2 separate regions of the Homo sapiens genome follow, and region 2 is linked to region 1. The links come from fine-mapping of genetic effects on plasma protein levels. Region 1 holds a variant in brackets. A gene starts in the other region. All regions are shown on their forward strands.

The links. A credible set is the group of variants that fine-mapping cannot tell apart. PIP is the chance, under the fine-mapping model, that this variant and not a neighbour inherited with it causes the effect. Protein levels are from antibody-based Olink assays in UK Biobank. Linkage for the fine-mapping came from a reference panel and not from the study's own genotypes, which makes the PIPs less certain.
Region 2: it holds the start of LRP1, and the variant in region 1 is the best candidate, but not a certain one, in a credible set for the plasma level of the LRP1 protein (UK Biobank, PIP 0.63).

What each region holds. Positions count from the first base shown.
Region 1 is chr6:24,409,502-24,417,501 of GRCh38, forward strand. MRS2 (magnesium transporter MRS2) reads left to right here. Exons shown (of 11, transcript NM_020662.4): 4 at 1-72; 5 at 2,721-2,894; 6 at 5,532-5,662; 7 at 6,896-7,012. Among named protein-coding and RNA genes, the nearest start is that of MRS2, 11 kb to the left of the region's middle. The variant A/G (reference allele first, on the strand shown) is at 2,531.
Region 2 is chr12:57,124,688-57,133,213 of GRCh38, forward strand. It overlaps LRP1 (LDL receptor related protein 1), which reads left to right and starts at 3,796. Exons shown (of 89, transcript NM_002332.3): 1 at 3,796-4,344. The coding sequence starts at 4,278. RefSeq lists enhancers at 2,803-3,456, 6,538-6,707.

The DNA of each region.
Region 1 (8,000 bases):
GCCAGAGATTTGAGATTTCAGCATGTAATGAGTATCACAGTCAGAAACAATAGGATTATCATGAGAATGGAGGTAAAATATTTTATTTTCATCTATGTTTCTCCAATACAATCTTATAAAAGTTACCTTCTAACTATCTTGATTAGTATCTAGGTTAAAAGTAATTTTGGAATAGAAATAGCTACCTGAAACATAGGATGTTTTATAGCTTAATATGCTATTATGAGTAGAACTCATTTTATATGGATTATATGCACATGTTCAATAGGCATAACACTGCTGTGTTTTAAGTTGGAAAAGCTCTGACTGTGGTGTTCATTCTCACTGTTGGGATTTACTCTCTAGTTCTGGAAACTATAAGACAATCCTGATTTATAATAGATATATATCCAATTGTGTACAGTTACATGTAATTATAGTATAACCTGAGCTACCAAAAATGTATTCTGGCTTTCTAAATAGCACAGGAATAGACATTAAATTTTATAGCCTTAATTTTTTTTTTGAGATGGAGTTTTGCTCTTGTTGCCCAGGCTGGCACGATCTTGGCTCACTGCAACCTCCACCTCCCAGGTTCAAGCAATTCTCCTGCCTCAGCCTTCTGAGTAGCTGGGATTACAGGCATAAGCCACCAAACCCAGCTAATTTTGTATTTTTAGTAGACATGGGGTTTCTCCATGTTGGTCAGGCTGCTCTGAAACTCCCGACCTCAGGTGATCCACCTGCCTCTGCCTCCCAAAGTGCTGGGATTACAGGCATGAGCCACCGTGCCTGGCCAGTTTAAATTTTTTTAATGGAAAACTTTCTGAAATATATTGTATTTTCCCTTACCTATTCAGAGCATGCCAAATAATAATTTGACTTTCTTTAGTGATTCAGAGTTAATGTGGGTTTCAGTTATTTTGGTGGGCTAATGTTTAGGTTCAAAAATAGATGAATGGTATTGGCCCTGTAGTGGGTATGAGACTTTCTTCAAAGAGTCTTTGATGGCAGATTTTTGTTCATTTTTCTAGAACTAATCAAAATAATAAAAAATGGGCCAGTATTGGTAGCATGTGCCTTTAGTCCCAGCTACTCAGGAGGCTGAAGTGGGAGGGTCACCAGAGACCAGGAGTTTGTGACCAGCCTAAGCAACATAGCAAGATCCCATCTCTAAAAATAAATAAGTAAATAAAAAATACTTTATCAAAAATGAAGCAGTCTTCTCCCATGTGATTTTCTTCAGAAATATTCTCTACTCTTGGAATCAGTAGCTAGCATTCTTCAAAACAGTGTCTCTTTCATGGAGAGACAGACAGGTATGTGAAAAAGCAAATTCAGCAGAATGATAATTGTGTAATCTAACTGGTGGGTATATGGTGTTCACTGCAATCTTTCAACTTTTCTGTATAAAAATTTTCATGAGGCTAGGTTGTGGTGGCTCACATCTGTAATCCCAGCACTTTGGGAGGCCGAGAGGGGTGGATCACCTGAGGTCAGGAGTTCGAGACCAGCCTGACCAACATGGTGAAACCCCGTCTCTACTAAAAAATACAAAAATTAGCCAGGCATGGTGGCGGGTGCCTGTAATTCCAGCTACTCAGGAGGCTGAGGTAGGAGAATAGCTTGAACCCTGAAGGTGGAGGTTGCAGTGAGCCGAGATTGCCCCACTGCACTCCAGCCTGGGTGACAGAGCAAGACTTCCATCTCAAAAAAAAAAAAGAAAAAAAAATTCATGATAGAATGTTGGAAAAATGTAAAAATAGAAAATTATCTCTAATTTCTATATCACTGATAAAGTGGCTACCTTTATCTACTTTTAACATACAAGATAACCAGTCTTTTTAGAAAAAATTCTAATTTCATATTGTTCTAAATTAGAGTAGTAAGGCTATGTTTCATCTTAATTTCAGATTTTGTTTATATGCTTTAGTGGTGTTTTAAAAAGGAAACTTCCATTTGTGCCAAACTAATTATGATTAAACTAAATCTTTTCTAAAAGTCTGCTCAATACCTGACTTTTAGGAAGACCTTATCTTGTTCCCTTTATTTATTTATTTATTTTTTCCAAAAAAGAAAGACGGAGTCTCGCTCTGTCGCCAGGCTGGAGTGCAGTGGCACAATCTCAGCTCACTGCAAACTCCGCCTCCCAGGTTCAAGCGATTCTCCTGCCTCAGCCTCTGAAGTAGCTGGGACTACAGGTGTGGGCCACCACGCCTAACTGATTTTTGTATTTTTAGTAGAGACGGGGTTTCACCATGTTGGCCAGGATGGTCTCGATCTCTTGACCTCATGATCCACCTTCCTCAGCCTCCAAAAGTGCTGGGATTACAGGCATGAGCCACCATGCCCGGCTTTCTGGGGGTATTTTTTGGTGTTTTTTTTTTTGTTTTTGTTTTTTTTTCATGATTACCCCAGAAGTCTTAGTAAATATATAATTTATGTGAATAATTCCAGTTTTATTGAGAGTGAGTTAGCAGTATCAAGACATATATTTTTTAAGTTTCTTTTCTTTTGAAAAAAAAAACCTTGATTTTTTTGAAAAACAAAA[A/G]TGAACACTGATTTGGTTTAGTCTTAATCCACAATTAGTAAAGTATTAAACCAAATTTTATGAATGTTCTTTTTTCCTACAGCTCTACAATTTGCATATATATATGTATGTATACATATATATGTATATACATGCATGTGTGTATATACACTCACATATTTATATGTTTTGGTTTTTTTTTTTTTAACAGTATTTGAAAGCTGTGATAACTCCAGAGTGTCTTCTGATATTAGATTATCGTAATTTAAACTTAGAGCAATGGCTGTTCCGGGAACTCCCTTCACAGTTGTCTGGAGAGGGTCAACTCGTTACATACCCTTTACCTTTTGAGTTTAGAGCTATAGAAGCACTCCTGCAATATTGGGTAAGTCTGTTTTTATTTAGCTTCTTGGGTTTATTCTGATTTTGAAATGTCATTGAGTGGGAAGACAAGTTGGGGTATTGTTTCAATGGCATGTCCCCTGACCACATCCTGCCCCGAAACAAGTCGTCTCTAAGGATCCTACATGGAGATATCACTTAATTCTTAAATGTTATGACCCAGTCAAATAGAACTAAAGACTCTATGTATATTATAAAAATGCTTGACATGTGATAATTATTTTATTAAATCATTTCATCAAGTCATTTTTTGATTTGTTTGTACAATCCTTTGTTTGAGCCAGGTAAATGATGCATCTTTTTGAGACCTAGATTGACATAGGAATCACGCACAGTTCTTCCAGTGACTCCTCCTTTAAATTAAGAGTCCTTAGATGTCTGAGACTCCTGTCAGGCTCTAAACAAGGGTGGTTCTCTGCTTCCCTGACCCCACAAATCTTTCATTATCTTTTCTTCCTCCTGTTAAGTCAGGATGGTACTGTTCAGGAACTGGCTACATGCAAGAGTTGGTGCTGGGAGCATACTAACCAGAGTGGGAGGAGGAGAGAGGGTAGAGAGGACATGAGGTGCATTGGGTTGGGTGAACCTGGCACACTTTTCTTTTGTCTGCCTTGCTCTGAAAGAATAGATGGCTACACTTCCTGCTTGGGGTAATTAATGAGCACCAGCTAGCACCAGCCAGTGAGATGATAAGTAGTGGGAGCCCAGTTACCAAGCAGGGGGAAAGCAGAAGAGAGAAAGAAGATGTAAACAGTGGTAAGTCATGGGCTCCACAGGCTGGGTAAGCTCTCAGGAGCTCATGCTGTTAGGAGAAAGACAGGGATCTTAAAGGGAGCAGGAGGGGAAGGAGAGAGGCTAGGCTGGCATGGGTCTCCGGCCTAGAGATTGGCTGTGGGGAGAATAGAGAGGGAGTTCAGGATGTCTGCTGGGATACACATTCTTCTTCCTTTAAATGGGGTCCCAGGAAGATTTCCTTACGAAACAACACTACATAGAAGCAAGACCAGCCACCTCTCAAAAGGGATAAGTTTTCGAACAAGGGAAAGCTCCCCAAACCCACCTAAGGGACCAAGACATACCATGAGTAGATATGCCTCACAAATACCCTATCTGTGACCCTCAGCAGCCTCCCCAACCACTACAAAAGTCCACACCTTGCTGAGCAGAGGGTTTGATATCTCTTAGATTAAAAGATGTGGTCTGCCTATTTGGCTGTCCAGTCTTCCCTCCCACCCAAGGACTTCTTAACCCGGAAGCAGTTCCTCTGGAGACGAAATAAACAACATGTCTGCAGAGGCACTGTGACTCTGGACTTGTTTCCAAATAAAAAAATCTGTTTCACAGTAATTGTGCTTCTGAGATAAAGACTATATGCTGTAATTTACGTCATCAGTTTTACCGCTTGATTTAGTTAGTATATGCTATTTGCCAACTGGCATGGAAGTGTTTCAGTATTTTAACAACTATATAGCAGGATTAGTGCATACCTGCCGAATATCAAATATCAAACCATACTTGTGTTAACCTAAATAGTCTATTTTTGACTTTACTCTGATATGTTTATGTTTTAAAGCTCAAGTTTTTATTTTCAAAGAGCTTTGTAGGAATTTTGAACCATATTCTGTTTACAGAGAACACAGGTATTACTGAAAGCTTGTGTTTTAATAATAGCAGATTTTATTTTACTTGATCCCTCATTACTTCATAATGAATGTCTATAGGAGAAAGACTTTTTTTTTTAAATTTTTTTAGTATTTATTGATCATTCTTGGGTGTTTCTCGGAGAGGGGGATTTGGCAGGGTCATAGGACAATAGTGGAGGGAAGGTCAGCAGATAAACATGTGAACAAGGGTCTCTGGTTTTCCTAGGAAGAGGACCCTGCCGCCTTCCGCAGTGTTTGTGTCCCTGGGTACTTGAGATTAGGGAGTGGTGATGACTCTTAACGAGCATGCTGCCTTCAAGCATCTGTTTAACAAAGCACATCTTGCACCGCCCTTAATCCATTTAACCCTGAGTGGACACAGCACATGTTTCAGAGAGCACAGGGTTGGGGGTAAGGTTATAGATTAACAGCATCCCAAGGCAGAAGAATTTTTCTTAGTACAGAACAAAATGGAGTCTCCTATGTCTACTTCTTTCTACACAGACACAGTAACAATCTGATCTCTCTTTCTTTTCTCCACATTTCCCCCTTTTCTATTCGACAAAACCGCCATCATCATCGTGGCCCGTTCTCAATGAGCTGTTGGGTACACCTCCCAGACGGGGTGGCGGCTGGGCAGAGGGGCTCATCACTTCCCAGACGGGGCGGCCGGGCAGAGGTGCCCCTCACCTCCCGGACGGGGCGGCTGGCCGGGCGGGAGGAGAAAGACTCTTACGAGAGTTAGCTCCTTGTCAACCAAATCTGTGCCTAAAGATAACATCATACATAGTTCTTTGAACCCAGAGGATCTAGTTTTTGAATCATCTGGAATAGGCATTCTAGAATTATCTATGTTCTGAAATGTTACCAGCATTTCAAGCTACTACAGATTTCTGTATTTAATCAGAGGATTCACTGATCCTGAATATTCTAAAAAGATTGTTTTAATTCTTATGAAAGGTCATGTTGTTATCTAGATCAACACCCTTCAGGGGAAACTTAGCATTTTGCAGCCACTGATCCTTGAGACCTTGGATGCTTTGGTGGACCCCAAACATTCTTCTGTAGACAGAAGCAAACTGCACATTTTACTACAGAATGGCAAAAGGTAAATATGGATGATGTATCACATTGGGAGTTGGAGACAAATATCTTAAAATCAATTATTAACATTTTGTTTCATAACTTTTTTTAAAGTATGAAAGTAGCCTAGGTGGGAAGTTGAGCTAAAAGGGGCACACAATCTACTGTTTGTTGAAAAGATACTTTGCATGAAATGTCATGTAAGGCTCTTTTCCGTATGTGATCTCATCTCATCACCCATTCAATAGTTGATATTGTCTTCATTTTGAAGATGAGAAAATTGAGGTTTGAGTAACTTGCCTAAATTTATATGGCTAGTAAATGGCAGATCTAAATCCAAATTCAAAGTCCATGTTGTTCTTTTTCTTTAAAATCATAATGCATTCCAGAATTTAATAACAATATTATATATGTATCATAAATAGAATAAACATGCTCTCAGGAGTTATACTCCCGAAATCCCTTCAAGAATTAACATTTAAAATTCCTGAATCAGTAGTTTCTTATCCAAAAATGTTGGAGTGTTTTTATCAGTTAAGAGTAACTAGTCTGTTCTATATTATCACTGCCATGTTGATTAATAAAATTCCCAAACCAAAAATCTTAAATTCACAAGCGATTTATGTTTCTGAGATAAGTAATGTATGATGAAATTTATATCACTGATAATTTTACCAATTAATTTAGATCTGGTTTGGGTTTTTTGTGGGTGTTTTTGAGACAGGGTTTCACTCCGTTGCCCAGGCTGGAGTGCAGTGGTGCAGTCTCAGCTCACTGCAGCCTTGGTTTGGGTTTTTTGTGGGTGTTTTTGAGACGGGGTTTCACTCCGTTGCCCAGGCTGGAGTGCAGTGGTGCAGTCTCAGCTCACTGCAGCCTTAACCTTCAGCAATCCTCCCACCTCCACCACCCAAGTAGCTGGGACTGCAGGCACATGCCACCATGCCCAGCTAATTTTCTAAATTTTTTTGTAGAGACAAGATCTCACTGTTGTCCAGGAGGGTCTCAAACTCCTGAGCTCAAGCAATCCTCCTGCCTTGGCCTCCTAAAGTGCTAGGATTACAGGCGTGACACCATGCCTGGCCAAATTGATTCTTAATTTGCCTGGTAAATACTCAACTTTTTTTTTTTTTTTAAATAAGTCATTGTTTAGCATGAATGTATAAGATAATATATTTGATAAGATACTCTAAAAACACTATTATGAAATGTTCTTATAAGTTTATTCTATTGATCATTTTTGTGTATCTATTTCTTATAGTCTATCAGAGTTAGAAACAGATATTAAAATTTTCAAAGAGTCAATTTTGGAGATCTTGGATGAGGAAGAGTTGCTAGAAGAGCTCTGTGTATCAAAATGGAGTGACCCACAAGTCTTGTAAGTATATAATTATACTTTGTTATTTATTTCCTTAGAGTAAATCTTTTGCCTTTTCCACTTCAAGGTGATTTTTCATACAGAATGTAACATTTTTCTGGACTACAGAATATAGAGATTTTTCATCCCCAGTTTCCCTTTTTTCCTGTGCAGTATCGTATCTAATTCAATGTAATTCTATGAGTATGCATACTGCATACCCAACACTGCTGACATGTGGTGAATATAAACACACAGTTACCTTTATATTCAAGGGACTGACCACCAGATTGGCATATACATCTACCAAAATAACTTACCTAGGAAGCAGAGTGGGAGAGAAATTTACATGGGGGAGGGAAAAGATGGGGTAAATACACGAGTAACACATTAACATGGATTATGTAAGTTCAGTCTAATGAAAATGTTAATCTTATAAACCTTTTATCTTTTATGAATTTAGAAATTGTTTATGCTTCTTGTGCACACTCCAGCTAAATGTTTACTTTTAAATACCCAAATATTTTGTTATTGTCTTTCTAGAGCAGTATCAGAAATTAATACACCTTTGTAATGAGTTTAGTTTCCACAGTCTGTACAGATTTTCTTACAGCACTTTGAAAAATTGGTTATTTATATCCTGATAAGGAAATAATAAGATAAAGGGGGCTATATAACATTTGGTAGATAGCCGATAGGTATGGTAGCAGAAACTGTTTGCTTTGCTTAGGCCAATCTGTCAATCTGTCTCTAATATGCTTTATGATACAGGTACCTCTTCAGAGTACTTCATTCCCCCTTACCCTTCTTGGTAGGGTAGGGGAGCAAAGTTATTACTGATATCATTCAAAAACATTTTCTTTATATGAAATCACATTATGTACACACCTCAAAAGGAAATGGTCTTGACATTTTTAGTTGTGGATTTTGTTTTACCTGATAGTGGTATTGGCTTTGCACTAATTCATCTGCATTCACATATCTGGATTTTCCTGTAACTGGCAGCATG
Region 2 (8,526 bases), not on the chromosome of region 1:
AAGGATTTGAAGATGCCTCTTAAGAACAGATGTGGGGAGGAAGAGAAGGCACTGAGGCAGAGAGGATTAAACAATGAATGCTATAAGAGAAATAGAGGGAAGAAGATGCTTGAAGTCACATCCTGTTCCAGGAAAGGCAACTCTAGTCCTAACATTCCTTTCACCAATCAAGAGCCTCTCACGCTGGGTGGAAACGAAGAAGAAAAAGACATGGTCCCTGCCCTCAAGGAGTATATAGTCTAGTGGTGGATACAGAGCCCACAAAATAAAGTGCTAAACTCTGGATACTGAAGCTTTCCTGAATACAAGTTTGGAACAGGAGAGATAGGCAGAGCGAGAATAACAGGAGGGCTTTTCTGAGGAGGGTAGAGGAGCAGGGGAACTGTATCATTAATGGCTCAGATAGAAATATGCATTCTCAGCAGGGTGAGGTGGCTCACACCTGTAATCACAGCACTTTGGGAGGCCAAGGTGCATGGATCACCTGAGGTCAGGAGTTTAAGACCAGCCTGGCCAACATGGAGAAATCCCATCTCTACTAAAAACACAAAAATGAGCCAGGCATGGTGGTGGGTGCCTGTAATCTCAACTATTCGGGAGGCTGAGGCAGGAGAATCGCTTGAACCTGGGAGGTGGAGGTTGCAGTGAGCTGAGATCACACCACTGCACTCCAGCCTGGGCAACAAGAGTGCAACTCCATCTCAAAAAAAAAAAAGAAAGAAAGAAAGAAAGAAAGACATAAATATGCATTCTCTCACCTTACAGACATACCCTCAGCAGTTCACCTGCTGGAAATAACCCAAGTGCCCAACAATCCCAACAAACTGTGGAACATCCAAGCAAGGAGATTCCAAGTAGCCAAGATCAAAGGGTGAGCTAAATGCGTTCATACGGTATGGAAAGGGATCAAGCTAAGTTAATTGAAAAAAAGGCAAGTTACAGAACACTATATATCATATGAGTTTCTTTATAGTTTTAAAGGATATTCACTTATATTTGTATGTTACTGTTTTATTTATTTATTTATTTGAGACAGGGTCTCCCTCTGTTGCTCAGGCTGGAGTGCAGTGGCACGATCTCGGCTCACCACAACCTCCACCTCCTGGGTTCAAGCGATTCTCGTGCCTCAGCCTCCCCAGTAGCTGGGATTACAGGTATGCGTCACGATACGTGGCTCATTTTTGTATTTTTAGTAGATATGGGGTTCCGCCATGTTGGCCAGTGTGGTCTCGAACTCCTGAAAAGTGATCCTCCCACCTTCGTCTCCCAAAGTGTTGGGATTACAGGCATGAGCCACCACGCCTGGCCTGTATGTTACTGTTTTAAAAACTCTCCTGGCCGGGCACGGTGGCTCACGCCTGTAATCCCAGCACTTTGGGAGGCTGAGGAGGCCAGATCACGTGGTCAGAAGTTCGAGACCAGCCTAGCCAACATCGTGAAACCCCATCTCTACCAAAAATACAAAAAAAATTAGCTGGGTATAGTGGCGTGTGCCTGTAATCCCAGCTACTTGGGAGGTCAAGGCAGAAGAATCGCCGAACCCGGGAGGCAGAGGTTGTAGTGAGCCGAGATTAGGCCACTGCACTCCAACCTGGGCAACGGGGCAAGACTCCGTCTTGGGCGGGGGGGAAACCTCTGCTGGTAGGGGAGACCTGAAGAACTGTTAGTAGAAGTTACTCTGAGGGTGCAGCTGAAAAATGGGGGTGTGGAGAGCATCAAGTTTCCTTTTACTTTTTACCTTCCTGTACTTTTTTTAACCACTAGGTATTATCTTTTCTTTCTTTCTTTTTTTTTTAACAATATAAAGTTAATAAAAATACACATTCACATTCAGGAGACAGCAGGGGATGGGAGGTTGCAAGTGAGAAGTGCATGCTGACTGAGGCCAGGTTTTGGAAAGCCATGACTGAAGAGGAGTTCACATTTGACTGGTCTATAGACACCCACTAGAGGTTCCCCAGCAAGGAAGAGACACCGGGAAAGCAGTTTTTGGAAGATTCACCTGACAGATGGGTAGGGGGAGGGAGGAAAGCCCCTTCAAGCCCTCAGGCTACATGTGGTTGCTCCAGATACCGTTTTCCTCTCAAAGCTGTCAAGCTGTCTAAAGTCTGTTTCGACCTGATTTCACTTGGATCCCAATACTGGGAGGGGCCCTGGGAGGAACCTCGTAGGCATTTGGTGAGTCCGCATAGTGCGTCTCACATTGTGTTGGGCCATGGGAGCTGGATAAAAGGAGAAATAAGACCCCGTTCCTGCCTGGAGCAACTCTCTGGCAGTGGAAATGGAGGAAATCTGAGATATACTTCAGAGGAAAAAAATGACAAGCCTGGAGCACAGGCTGGCAAGATTGGATATAGGAAGGAAAGGCCCCCTTGAGTTGGCATAAAGTCTGAGGTTTCTAGCCCAGGAGACTAAAGGCAGGTGGCCACCGCGCTGAGCAAAGCCGGCTGGAAGAAGCTAAAGGTTGAGCTCACTGTCATTAGGAGGCAAGTCCTTCGTGCTGCTCCTGTTTCTGCCAAGGACAGACTGGAGTGGGGACTTTTCCGTAACTAGAACGTAAAAGGGGGAACAGTCCCTCCTCTCCAGCGTCAATTTTTGGCAGCCGACGTCGTCTGCCCCGCTCCTTGAACTCTGACATGCAGACACCTAGAAAGTCAGACACTAAGGTAACAGCCATAAAACGCCGCCCAGAAGGGGGCAGTGACCAAAAGCACGTTCACTGGCCCCTGGGAACCGCCTGGCGCCTGCCTTCTGCAAAGTATCATTCCCGTGTGGGCTGAGCCTGGGGACAAAGGTCCGGCGCTCAGCAGACACCTCCTTGGAACCCGAGGCCTGGAAACGAAGGTCCAGAGTCCCTCATCTTATTCCAAATCCTGGCGCTCGGAATCTAAAACCCTAACTTGATGGCAAGCCAGTCAGAAGGTATTAAAAAAAAAAAAAAAAAAAAAAACAGAAAAATAAATGAGCCCCGACTTCTTGGGCGAAAGGGGGTGGCCTTTCCTCAACCCCACCCGCTGGTGACTCACCTCCCTCCAAACCAGGGCCTGCCCCTCCCGCGCCTAGGGCTGGGCGAGCAGGGCGGGCGGGTACTAAGGTGGGCTCCATCCCCGAGCCCCACGCGGGCGGACAAGCTCCGGCGTGTCCCCTCGGGTGTCCCTGTTTACTCCGAGCCCGGGAGCGAGGTGGGGGCGGGTCCTCGCGGTCCCTCCCCAACCCCGCCCCCTCCTTCGCAGGCCCCAATCCCAGTCCGGTCTTCCAAAGTCTCCAAATCAAAGCTCAGCCTTTCCCTGCACCTTCCCCGCGGACTGGCGGTCCCTGTCCCCACCCCGGGCAGAGGAGGCACCTTCAGGGTTCCCCTAGAAAATCGAGCCTCGGCCCAGACCACTGAGTCCCGGACGCCCCCGGAGGGAGCCTGAAATCCTAGAGTATGACACTGAGTTTCAAAGGGGAGCCGCTCAGCTCTCCGCCCACTGCCCAATCCCACCCTCGACCCCTTCTGCTCTCTGGAGCACCAGGGAGGAGGGCCCAGCCAGGGGAGAGGGCGCCCCAGGCCCCAAACTAGCCAGCGAGTCCCCGGGACCCTCACTCTTGGACCGCTTTCCAGAACTCCGAACCCTGTCGCGGGTCCGCGTCGCCCTCCCCCGGGCAGCGCGTCAAATCGGCGCATGCGCACTCACTGGATTGCCGCGTAGCTCTTTCTCCCCCCACCCACCAACCTTTTTTCTTTCCCCGCCCCTTCCCTCCCTCCCTCCTCAACCCGTCCCCTCCCTCTCCCCCATCAGCCCCCCCCTCGGCACTTCAGTCCGGGGAACAGCGGTGCGAGCTCCAGGCCCATGCACTGAGGAGGCGGAAACAAGGGGAGCCCCCAGAGCTCCATCAAGCCCCCTCCAAAGGCTCCCCTACCCGGTCCACGCCCCCCACCCCCCCTCCCCGCCTCCTCCCAATTGTGCATTTTTGCAGCCGGAGGCGGCTCCGAGATGGGGCTGTGAGCTTCGCCCGGGGAGGGGGAAAGAGCAGCGAGGAGTGAAGCGGGGGGGTGGGGTGAAGGGTTTGGATTTCGGGGCAGGGGGCGCACCCCCGTCAGCAGGCCCTCCCCAAGGGGCTCGGAACTCTACCTCTTCACCCACGCCCCTGGTGCGCTTTGCCGAAGGAAAGAATAAGAACAGAGAAGGAGGAGGGGGAAAGGAGGAAAAGGGGGACCCCCCAACTGGGGGGGGTGAAGGAGAGAAGTAGCAGGACCAGAGGGGAAGGGGCTGCTGCTTGCATCAGCCCACACCATGCTGACCCCGCCGTTGCTCCTGCTGCTGCCCCTGCTCTCAGCTCTGGTCGCGGCGGCTATCGACGGTGAGTGAGATTCCGCGTCCCCCTTGGACCCCTGGGGGCACCCTCTCCCCAGCCCCCACTCCTGCATACGGATGGGGAAGGGAGACGCGGGAGGGGGTGCCTTTTGTTATCCCAGTCCAGCTGACACAGCAGCGGCCCGACTGGGGGCGGGGATGGGGTCCGATTTGGGGGATGGGGGCCCTGGGCAAATGATGCTTCCGGGGCCCCCCAGCACAAACAAAGACCAGAGGCCTGGGTAGAGAGAAGAGGGCTCCCCATTTTTCTGATCCTGGGGAGGAGAGGCCTTCTTTTCCTATCTCTGTTCGGGGAGGGCCTCCGCCTCCCCTACATCCTCACAACCCCCCACCCCCCATCTGAATTGTGAAGGAATCCGGATTTGCAATGTTCGGCTGCAAAAGGGGGTGGGGGTGGGGGGGGTGGCTTTTGCACTGGCCTCTGTAGCTCGAAAGGGGAGCCAGGCCAGGGGTACCCTGCCGGGCAGAGGGCAGGCAGGCCCGGGAAGGCTGTGGGTGGGGAGAGGGAGGGCCCCCTGCTTGGGCGTGGAATCGACCCCAGAGCCCCGGCTGGAGGCCTGGGTGCTGAAGTAGGCTCTTCCCCCTCTCAGGGCCTCTGTCAGTAGCCTGGGGTAGGGCTGTGTTGGGGGGCAGAGAGGGGGAGCTCGCCATACTATGTGACTTTGAATTTTCCTTCTTAATTCCTGGGAGCTTTGAGATGAAAAAACGTCAGATGTCATCACTGGGGAAGGGGACTGGAGAATGGCCTGGAATGCTGGGGTAGGAGGGTGGGGGAGGCTGCCTTCTTCCTGACTTCTGGCTTCATCACAGTTTGGATTGGAAGGAGAGTTGGAGGTTGGATGGGGATTATGGCTGTGCCCCCACACTCCTTTAGTAAATCTGTTTATTCCCTGCACCCCTCCAAGCCCAAAACCCCATACACACACACTTTGTATATTGCAGAGTTAGGCTTAGGCTAGAACTGCATCCTTTTGGGGAAATGGGGTGCCTCTCTTCCCTTTTTTTGTCAGCTGTTTTTTTCTCCTACTTGTGAGTCACTGGTTCAAGTCTTGCCCAAGCTTTAAGCATTAAGCTGGGGTCATGGGGTTGGGCTGGGCTAGGTCCCTGATTTGAGAAGGGGTGGGATCTCATCCCCTCCTGTCATCTTAGCCCTCTCATCCAAAGACAAAACTGGGCTGGATACCATCATACACCCCCTCCTCTGTCTTGCCAGATTGGGATTGGGAAAGTTTTTCTCTGAAACCAGATTATCTCCCTCCCTCTCCCTAACTTGCTTCAATTGGGGGAGGAGACTTACAGGGTCAGGAAGCAGCTGTGTCCCCAAAAAACATATTTAGTGTCCCTCAGTTGTGCCATCTTGGGGACTCTCTACCCCCCACCCCCACCCCACCAATTAGCTGCCCCGGAGGAGGAGAGGGGCTTTTCCTGAATATCCTCCAGATGCCGCACAGCCGGCTTCTGCCTATAACTCCTGTCATTATCATGTGTTTTTCTCTTGTTCTCAGCCCTGTGAGGTGAGAAGGGAAATCGAGGCAGGGAGATTGGGGTTGCAGCCGCTTCTGGGAGGAATAGAAAAAAAATTTGAGAGAGAGAGAGACCCATCAGGAGCCCCTTGAAGGAGGGTGGCTAGAGTTAGGCAGAAGCAAGAGGGTTTCTGTGGAGAGCAGGGAAGGTCAGGAAGGGACCCCAGATAGCATCACTCCCAGGGCTCTAAAGGAGTTCTATTTGCCACACCAAGTTAGTGGAAGAGAGAGACTGGACATGTTCTCCTTAACTATCTCCCTACCCTTTCTTAAAATGTTCACCCACGCCCCCTCTGTATCTCCAGCTCAGATCAAACTATCCAAAGCCCCAGGAGAGGACCCCTCCCCAAACACACACCAATATTTCTGCCTTGGGAGTGGGAATATAAATAATCAGCTCCACCCCACTCTTGGGTACAGGGTGGTGAGAAAGGGGAATTGCATAGAAATGTAAGTTCAACTCTATCCAGAGGCAGCCTAGGGGATCCCTTATCCCTAACCCCTGCCCTCTTGCCTCAGGGTCCATCAACATTGAACTTTCTTGTTTACTTTCCAGAGAATGGAGATGACCCAGCTCACCTGACTTAGTATGTTACCTTCCTCCTGCTATCACAGCCTTGCTGCTTTCTCTCCAGGGCAGCAATCCTAGGGGCTTTCCCACCTCTTCTGCTTTCTCTTCTATGCCTGAAACTGCCTCTGGGGTCCCCTGCCCTTTGGGGAGTAACGTCACTCCCCACTAGCGACAAAATTGAGTGTACCTGCTGCTGGAGAGGTTGCAGAAAGATGGGGTGGAGAATGGGACTATTGAGGGCCCTGCTGAGATTGGGGAACATTTTCTAGTGGGGAGGGCACCCCCAGACAAATACAGCTCACAGAATAAGGCTGACTTCCTCCCTCCCTTTTTCCTGACCTTCCTCCACACACCCCCTTGAGCCGGCATATTACCAGTTACTAGAGTAGGTACAGTGGAAGTGAGTTATGAAGCTGGGGTGTTAGCTTCCTGGATCCCTGAGAGAAAGTTCTAAACTCCTTTCTCCCTGATCAGACTCACATCCTAAACGTCTCCCTTTGCCTCGTTGTCTTTTAAAGCAAGAATGTGTAAGAAATTCATTTTGGGGTTGGAGGGATATTTTGATGTTTAGGGCTGCTTCACTAGACATCTTTTTCTTCTGATCTTGTTCTCTCTCCTCTCTTCATTTTCTCAACCACCCTTCCACCACTGAGCCTCCCAAAGGATGACAGCCCAGGTCCTGGCCAGAGTCAGTTCCTGTCCAGATGCCCCCATTCTTCAAAACCCCTTCCTTACCTTTTGGGAAGCCCTTCCTTACTCAAGTCTATCTCTCTTTCCTCCTGCTGCAGTGTGAGCCCTTGCACATCAGAACCCCCAAGCCTAGGTTTATTCCCGCCCAGTACTCTCTTCTCAGGGTCCTCCTCACTCCTCAGACTCTTTACCTTTCAGGTCCTCCAGCTCTGCGTGTGGGCTCATTGCTCTTGGGGCATCTGGGTGCAGCTGAATGGTACTGCAGGAAGGCCCCTGACTTGGTAGTGCTGGGTATGAGCGATAGAGAACCTGCCTCCCTCTTCTGTCCCAGATTTCAGCCTGGTTAGCAGGATCCTGCATTGTTTGGAGAAGGAAGCAGTTGGCTTTGGAGTGTTTCCGGTGCAATGGCCTCAGGCACCAATATAAACCCTCCCTGGGAAAGAGGTGAGGGGTATATGTGGAGAGTTGTCCCTCTTGCTCCCCTAGGGGAGATGAAAGCCTCTCCCTCTCCCACCAGGCCTTAGCTTCCCTGGCTGAAGAGCTCCATTTTCCTCCCTCCTTTCTACCCTCCTGACTCCAGGGGTGGTAGTGGTCCCTATTCTGGGTCTCCCTTGAGTCAGGCACTGCCTAGGGCCGAGACTCTGTCTCTCCAAGATAGGACAGATCTTGCTCCCACCCTACTCTAGGCTCAGCGGGGTAGTCATTCTCTGGGTTCATCCCAGGACAACTGTGTCATCCCCTTGGCAATCTCTGGACTGAGCCCCCTTCCTGGCTTTTCTGGCTGTCTGTCTGTCTTTCTGTCTGTCTGTCATTAGTGTGCGCTGTCTTGGCTTTTTAGAACCTCTCTGTCTCTCACCCTCTCAGTTCATCTCTTACTGCCGAACCTTTGTGACATTCTCTGCCCTGCTTTCTGCGTCTCTGTCACTTGTCTTATTTTTCTCTGCCTGTCTCCATTTACCCCCATCCAGGCCTCTTGGTATCCCAAAAGCTTCTTGGGAGCAAGAGTCTCTCTGGGCTTTCCCACTCACCCCCTGGCTCCCTCCCCTCTGTTTTGGCTATTTTTCCCCCTTCCTGGCCAGACCCAGTGTCCAGTTCAGCACCAAAAGTTTCCTCTCCACTTTCCTCCGACTTCCTCTTTCTTCTTCCCCCTCCACTAATTTGGGGAATGGGTTTTGGAGAGAATGTTTCTGGAAGAAAGGAACTTGATACCCTTTGTGGGCTAAGAGGGAGAAAGGAGGTATTTCAGAAGGAAGGAGGGAGGTTAGACTTCTGGCAGAACTTCCTCCTGACCAGGAGCCTAAGAACTGGAGAAAGATGTAAGGAGTGAGTCAAGAACTTGGAGCTTTTACTCTGGTGAGCATAAGCTGTGTGTGTGGCTGGGGTG